Homo sapiens: one gene and its partner. The protein of the gene in region 1 purifies or fractionates together with the protein of each later gene. This does not show direct contact. Each region holds a gene or a part of one and is shown on either strand. Other genes may lie near its edges.

What was found. The genes of interacting proteins can lie anywhere in the genome.
Region 2: the proteins of GLI3 (region 1) and HSPG2 purify together in Homo sapiens (affinity purification with mass spectrometry; one large-scale study listed by BioGRID and IntAct). This does not show direct contact.

Annotation. Positions count from the first base shown.
Region 1 is NC_000007.14:41,964,710-41,968,209, forward strand, and holds part of GLI3 (transcriptional activator GLI3), read right to left. Parts: intron 3,215-3,500; coding exon 2,887-3,214; intron 1,933-2,886; coding exon 1-1,932. UniProt on the Homo sapiens protein: Has a dual function as a transcriptional activator and a repressor of the sonic hedgehog (Shh) pathway, and plays a role in limb development.
Region 2 is NC_000001.11:21,853,811-21,857,310, forward strand, and holds part of HSPG2 (basement membrane-specific heparan sulfate proteoglycan core protein isoform b precursor), read right to left. Parts: coding exon 3,475-3,500; intron 3,386-3,474; coding exon 3,205-3,385; intron 2,103-3,204; coding exon 1,977-2,102; intron 1,866-1,976; coding exon 1,713-1,865; intron 1,637-1,712; coding exon 1,494-1,636; intron 1,174-1,493; coding exon 1,038-1,173; intron 956-1,037; coding exon 801-955; intron 534-800; coding exon 383-533; intron 1-382. UniProt on the Homo sapiens protein: Integral component of basement membranes. Component of the glomerular basement membrane (GBM), responsible for the fixed negative electrostatic membrane charge, and which provides a barrier which is both size- and charge-selective.

The DNA.
Region 1 (3,500 bases):
TGTCTTGCTGACTGAAGCCCACGGTTTGGTCATAGAACTGACCAGAGTAATTCTGCAGATTAGAGCACAGCGGATGGGGCTGCCCTTTCATCTCCATCTTGATACCATTCACCCTGCAGGTCTGACTTGTGTCACTGAGCTGTCCTGACTGCAGAGCAAGGCTGTCCCTCGGCATAGCCTGGCGCCTGCTGCCCCCAAAGCTGGCACATGGCTGGTAGCCCCTGACAACTGCCAAGCTTGACGGCTGGCTGCCCATGCCGTGAGCCCCTGGCAGGCAGCTCTCTGGCCCTTGGTAGATGTTGATGTGTGAGGTAGCACTAATCTGCCCAAGCATCTGCTGACCGGGGCGGCCTGCCCCCGGGTGCTGCATGCTGTCGCCGAGGAGCTGGTGAGCCAGGTACCCCTGTCCCACTGGGTCCTGGTTCTGCATGCCATTCACCATGCTGCCAGCTGACTCATTTGGCGCTACCGGCAGGCCGAAATTCAGCTGGCCCCCGCTCCCTTGCATGGGGGTGCTCTTCAGCTTTGAGGCTTGAATCCCGGCACCACAGGCACCGTCGAGTGCACCAGGGGCCACTGGCTGCCTGTTGAGACAGTTCCCATACTGCGGGGCCTTACAGGGCTGTTCATGGAAGGCGTTTCCACTGGTGCCACTTCCGGGGCTGTTGTGGAGCATCAAGTGCTCTGGGCCACCGTAGGGGTTGCTGTTCTCCCCGAGGGTCTGATAGCCCCCAGCAGGCCCGCTCCTCAAGGGGTTCTGCGGGTGGACGACCATGCCGTTGCAGAACCCAAAGGCGCGAGTCTGCGGCACAGCGGGCCGCGGCCCACACTTGAGCTTGGAGGAGGACAGGTCGGCGCTTCCGGAGCTGACTTCGTTCCACTGAATGGGCAGGTCGGTTTTGCTGCCCTCGGGGCAGGGCTGCTCGAGGGCATGGAACTGCTGGCCAGCGTGGCTGTCTGGCAGCCCGGGCGCGTCAAAGTCACCGGGCCCGTGGGGCACTTTGCTGTCGTCCGGGAGGGCGCTGGGGAAGTGCTGCTCGTACCCTGCTTGGTTCTGGGAATTTAAATACTGCACCACGTCGTCCGGCAGGAAATCCTCATCGTTCAGGTTGGCATCAGCGTCCATGGTCAGGGACTCCAGGGTGACGTTCTCGGTGATGCTGGGAGGACAGGGGGACGAGTGGAAGTTTCGGGACTGGCCGCCCTCGGGCCGCGTGTAATTCTGAAGCACGAGACTGCGCTTCTCCGCGGACGTGGCCATCGCCGGGGGGTTGCAGCTGCTGAGGCTGCTGAAGCGCGGCACACGAGGCAGGGCCAGGCCCTCGGAGCCTGTCCGCACCGGGTCGCTGGCCCTCCTCACGCCGTGGCCCGGCGCATCGTGCGGCTGCAGGTGGCGCCGCCCGTAGCCGTGGGCTCCCCCGTCGCTGCACCTCCTCGGGGCATGAACTGGAGGCAGGGCCACGCCAGGCTCGAGGGCATCCCCGAGCAGCGCCAGGCGCGTCTTCAGGCTCATCCTCTCCATGTTGGGCAGGGGCGTCGGCGGCGGCCCTCCTGTGGCAGCCGCGTACTTGGCCTTGAGGCGGTACTGCTGGGCGGGCGTGAGGCTGAGCAGGCTGGGCAGGCCGTCGCTCTGGCTGGCTTCGCTGGAGCGGCGCGAGGCGTCGGTGGAGATGGGGTCGTAGGAGTCGGCCACGCTCACGTTCTGCGGCCGGCCCTCGGCCTGTGACGCCTCGCTGGAGCGGCGGCTGGAGAAGCAGGGCGAGATCCCTGAGGAGCGGCGGCTGCTCAGGTAGGCCGAGCTGATGGTGCTGGCGCTGCTGTCCCTTCTGTTGAGCATGTTCAGCATAGTGACGTCCACCCCAGAGAGGTCGCTTCTGCCCGGGAGAAGCGTCATGGGCCCACCCAAGCTGCAGGTGTTGTTGGACTGTGTGCCTGGAGACAGAGAAAGGGAGAGACCATGCGGAGATGAATTCCCTTCGAGCATGACTTACACCAGGCATGAGCAACCCTTTTCTGTAAAGGGCCAGCTAGGAACTATTTCTGGTGTCCCAGGCCACATTGCCTGCCTCACAACTACTCAGCTCTGCAGTGTAGCCCCAACACGGCCACAGAGAGCAGTGAGCAAGCAAGCGTGGCGGGGTGTCCATGAAGCTTCCTTTACAAAAACAGGGGCGGCTGGAGATGGCCGCAGGCTGTAGTTTGCTGATGCCTGGCTTAAACAAAACAATAACAACTCCCTCGATTCACTGAAGCCCCTCCCCAAGCGCTGTGCAAGGACAAAAAGAATCTTGTGATGGTACACAACGCTTGAGTTCCAGGCAAGTCCCCAGGCAAAGGTACTCCACGAGTTTCACATTCACGCTCAGGGCGTCCTGTTCATGCCACATCCTACCAACAGGTAACACCTGTGTTGGTGCAGGCAAGAGCTTCACCCCTTAGGTGCTCTCAGAAGTGTAATCTCAGAAGTGCAAACTGACCTGGGGACTGACAGTGGGGAGGGATTTCTGACTTTCCTTGAACTGGGTAAATATAAATAAAAGTGGCTGCTAACCTCGTGGTTTTAAATTTTGGAAACCAGAGACAGAGTTCCAACCACAGATGCCTCCACTGCTGGCATTCCCTTACCCTAATCTAACAGTTATGATTTCACCATCAGAATATGAGTCATGCACAGTCACATTTTTTTCTCAATATTATCCTGTTCCTAGCTGTTTTTAAAATATGGACAATCCCAAAAGGCAACTTGAATGGGCTAAACATTAACGGATGGTTACAGCGTCATTTTAGGACTGGTGGAGAAACTAGCAAACATAAAACTGAGGGCCTGCATTTAAAAGAACAGAAAAAAAAACCCTGAGCAGATGCATGGTCTGATGTAGAACTCACCATTTCCTATGAGAGGAGAGACCGCAGGGGCTTTAGGGGGTAGAATGGGGTTCAGTCGCGGAAACATTCCATTCACTTGTTTTAGCCTTTCTAGTTTTACGTGCTCCATCCATTTGGTCCCTGCCGGGTTTCTCCTGGCTTGCAAAGCAAGGGCTGTGGTTGCAGTGGAAATGGTTGAGTCCATGATTGGGGTTTCATCGATGGCACTGAGGTCTCCTATACTACCTCCATCGGTCAGAGGAAGCTCGAGCCCACTGTTGGAATAGTTGCTGATGGGGGACTGTTGGCTGCTGCATGAAGACTGACCACCAGGGCTTGGCTGAGATGTCTGTTGGGGTCAAGTGGAAAGGAAAGAAATGTCACCAGGGAGGGTCAAGGAAAGGGAGCCAATAATGAGAGCTCATGCATATCGAGATCTTCAAGATCATCAGTTGGTTGAATGAGAAGAAAAACTATGTTCTGGTGAATGGAGCTGGCCACTTTTGGCCAGAATGACGGATGGACCACCAGGCTGATGGGCAACAGGAGGCAATGGAAAGCAGAGAATGCTAGCTGCAGTGTGACTGGCATGGTATCAGCCATGGAATCCTGCCCCAATCGCCAACTCTGCAGAC
Region 2 (3,500 bases), on another chromosome or scaffold:
ACCATGACCAAGCAGGTGGGCAGTACTGCTCCATTTCATAGATGAATCTGAGGCCCCAAAAGTTAAAAGCTAGTTCAAGGTTGCTAAGGGGCAGATCTGGGATTTGAACCAGGTCAGCCGACTCCCAGCTTAGTATTCAACCTGGACATTCTGCTGCTTCCTGACAAATTCTGAAACAGTCACTCATAGGGAGCCCAGGTAAGCTGGACCAGCCTTAACCTCCCTCCCGTCCACTCAACCTCCTTCTCTCTCTGAGCAGGCGCTGAAGGGTCAAAGCCTGCCTGGAATGCCCCCCTGTCCTGGTCCCACTGAAGAAGCCACAGGCATCTTCCTTGGGAGCTCCTAGGGCTCAGCCCCGGCCCAGCCACACCTGGCTCCTCACCTGGGGTGTAGCTGGGGCCAGAATGGGTGCCGTGGAGCACAGACACAGTAATGGAGGCCTCCTTGGGGCCCGATCCATTCTCCACACGGCACACATATTCTCCAGAATCAGCTGGTGAGACCTGGGGGAGCCGCAGACGGGAGCCGTGCACCTGGGCCAGGAGGAGCCAGAGGTACGTGAGGACAGGGACGGGGGCTATTGTCACCACTCCCTCAGCCTCAGTGATTCATTCAAACTCTCACTGGCTCTGCTCCGAGCCATCCCATGCTAGAAACTGGGAGGGAGGGAGATGAGGCCTGGCTTCTGCTGGTGGAACGTGTGGGGCAGTGTGCCGCCTCCCCCGCCCAGCGTACAGGCCCCGCCTCCGCCACAGCCCCTGCACCCTGGGTCCCCTGCCATAGGCTCAGGGCCCACATACCTGGGTGTGGGGAGGCAGGCTACCCCCTCGCCTGTACCAGGTGACCTGGGCATGGGCTGACCCTGCCACCACACAGTTGAGGTCGAGTGTTTGCCCTTCTGTCACAGAAGGCGATGAGGACTCAATCTTGACCGGCGGTGGGCTGGCATCTGAGGCTGGGGCCAGAGTAGGGGTCAGCAGGCCCCAGGGGAGCCCTGGCTTGCCCTCCCCACCCCTCCATTCCCAGAGAGTCCGTACCTGAAAGGACAACCACTTGGATCCGGGCCTGGGCAGTGCCTGCAGGGCTGGTGGCCACGCAGAGGTAGAAGCCGGCGTCAGCAGTCGTGATGGCTGGGATGAGCAGTGTCGCGATGTCTGTGCGCTCTGACCGGGCCTGCCGTGGGTGAGATGGGTCAGCTGCCCCAGAGGCAGCTGGACAACGGCTGGCCAGGGGGACAGATAGGGCATAAAAGGGAGAGGCAGGTGCAGGGCCAATATTAGGGCCCAGTGGGGCATGAAGGAGGACAAACGCCAGGCAGCCAAGAGGACGGCAGGGGCTCCCTGCTGGGATGCAGGGGCAGGAGACCACCATCTTGGAGGTGAAGGGAGCCACAGAGGAGGAGGTGGGGTGGGGCGTGAAGGGGGAGGGAAGGTGGCTGGGACTCTCTGCAGAGCCTGTGGGCCTCCTCCTCCTGGGTGGGCCCATCTCCTCACCTGTGGTGGGAGGCTGCCCCCTTCCTTCCTCCAGGTGATGGTGGCGCTAGGCACGCCTGCAGCCCTGCAGTACAGCCTGACGGTGCGGCCTGCGTGGACCTGGGTCCTCTCTGGGCTCACTTGGACTCTGGGCCCACCGCCCCCTGCAGACAGAGTCCTGTGAGAACACGCCCTGGGCTGAGCACACTCCCGGCCCCCACCCTGAGCCCGGCCTCTCACCATGCACGTGGAGCACAGCCCTGGCCACCTGCTGCCCAGCGCTGCTGTGGGCTCGGCACAAGTACTGGGCCTGATCCGTGGGCTCGACAGCTGGCAGGCGCAGGATGCCGCCGTGGATTTGTGCCTTCGCAGGGAGCTGGCCGCCGGGGCCCCCTGACGAGTAGACGTGGGGTCAGCACCCACCAAGCCTGCTCAGAGTCCTGCCCCTCCCCTCCCACACCCAGGAGAGTCAGGCCTTGAATGTCATTCCCATCACGGCCTCACCTGTCCACTCGAGGGTGGGCGTGGGGCTCCCTGTGGCGCTGCAGCGGAACTCCGCCAGTTGCCCGGGCTGCACTGTGAGCTGTGGCGGATGGATGGAGACCACGGGGGCGGACAAGGTGCCCGAGGCTGACAAGGGAGGAAAAGGAACATGCACTCAGGGTGGGGAGTGTCGTCTGACTCACACAACAGTCCTGCTGCCTACTTTCTCTGCTTCCAGGCTAGCCCTCCACGGCCATCTGTGCACACAGGAGCCAGAGGGAGCTTGGGAAATGTCAACAGGACCTTGTGACCTCCCACCTTGAGACCTGTCCATGACTCCCTGTTGCTTTTAGAATAAAATCCAAAATTCCTACCCTGATCCACCACATACTCCATGCTCTCCCGTCTGCCCACACCCGTCCTCCCTCCCACAGCCCCAGCCACGTGGTCTCTGCTGTTCCTCAAACATAGCAACGTGCTCCTGCCTCAGGGCCTTGCCATGTGCTGCTCCCTCTGCCAAGAACACTCTGCCAACTCTCTAACTTGCTCAATGCCTACCTTTCCTTCAGGTCTCAGCTTAGGTGTCACCTCCTCAGAGAGGCCCTCCCTGACTGCCCTATCTAGAGTAGCCCTTGCCTCTCCCACCTTGTTTTATTTTATTTATTTTTCTGAGATGGATTCTTGCTCTGTCACCCAGGCTGGAGTGCAGTGGCGCGATCTCGGCTCACTGCAACCTAAGCCTCCCGGGTTCAAGCGATTCTCCTGCCTCAGCCTCCTGAGTAGCTGGGATTATAGGCACCTGCCACCACACCCAGCTAGTTTTTGTATTTTTAGTAGAGACAGGGTTTCACCTGTTGGCCAGGCTGGTCTGGAACTCCTGACCTCAAGTGATCCACCTGCCTCAGCCTCCCAAAGTGCTGGGCTTACAGGTGTGAGCCACCGCTCCTGGCCTTCTCCCACCTTGTTTCTTGCTTTCTCATCATTCCTAGCCTGGCACTCATCGCCATGTGTAGTTATCTTGCTTGTTCATTTATTCCCATGCTTATGGTCTCCCTGCCTAGGACGTGTACTTCAGGAGGACCGAGATACTGTACATGCTTCTCTCCCCTGCTTCTGCAGAGCCTAGACCAGGACCAGGCATGCAGCAGGTGCTCAGAAATGATCAGCAGAATGAAGAAATGCTGTGCTAATTCTGGTGGGAATGGGGGAGAGACAGGAGGGGAGAATCAGGTATAGATGGGAGGTGTACCCTGCACATGTAGAGTGGCTGTGCCCTGGTCCATGGCAAACATGTTGGAGCCGGTGCACACGTAGGTGCCTGCATCACTCAGCTGGACGTTGCGAATGGTCAGGATGCCATTGAAATCCATGGCTCGGGTGGGCAGTTTCCCGTTGTGCAGGCGGGTCCACACCAGGGTATAGGCTGGGGACTGCAGGGCAAGGCGAAAGGGGGTCATGGGTGGGGCTCAGAGACCCCAGAAGACAGACTTCCTCCATCCCCACTCCCTGACCTGCACACCTTGCTTTTGGCTGTGCAGATGAAGG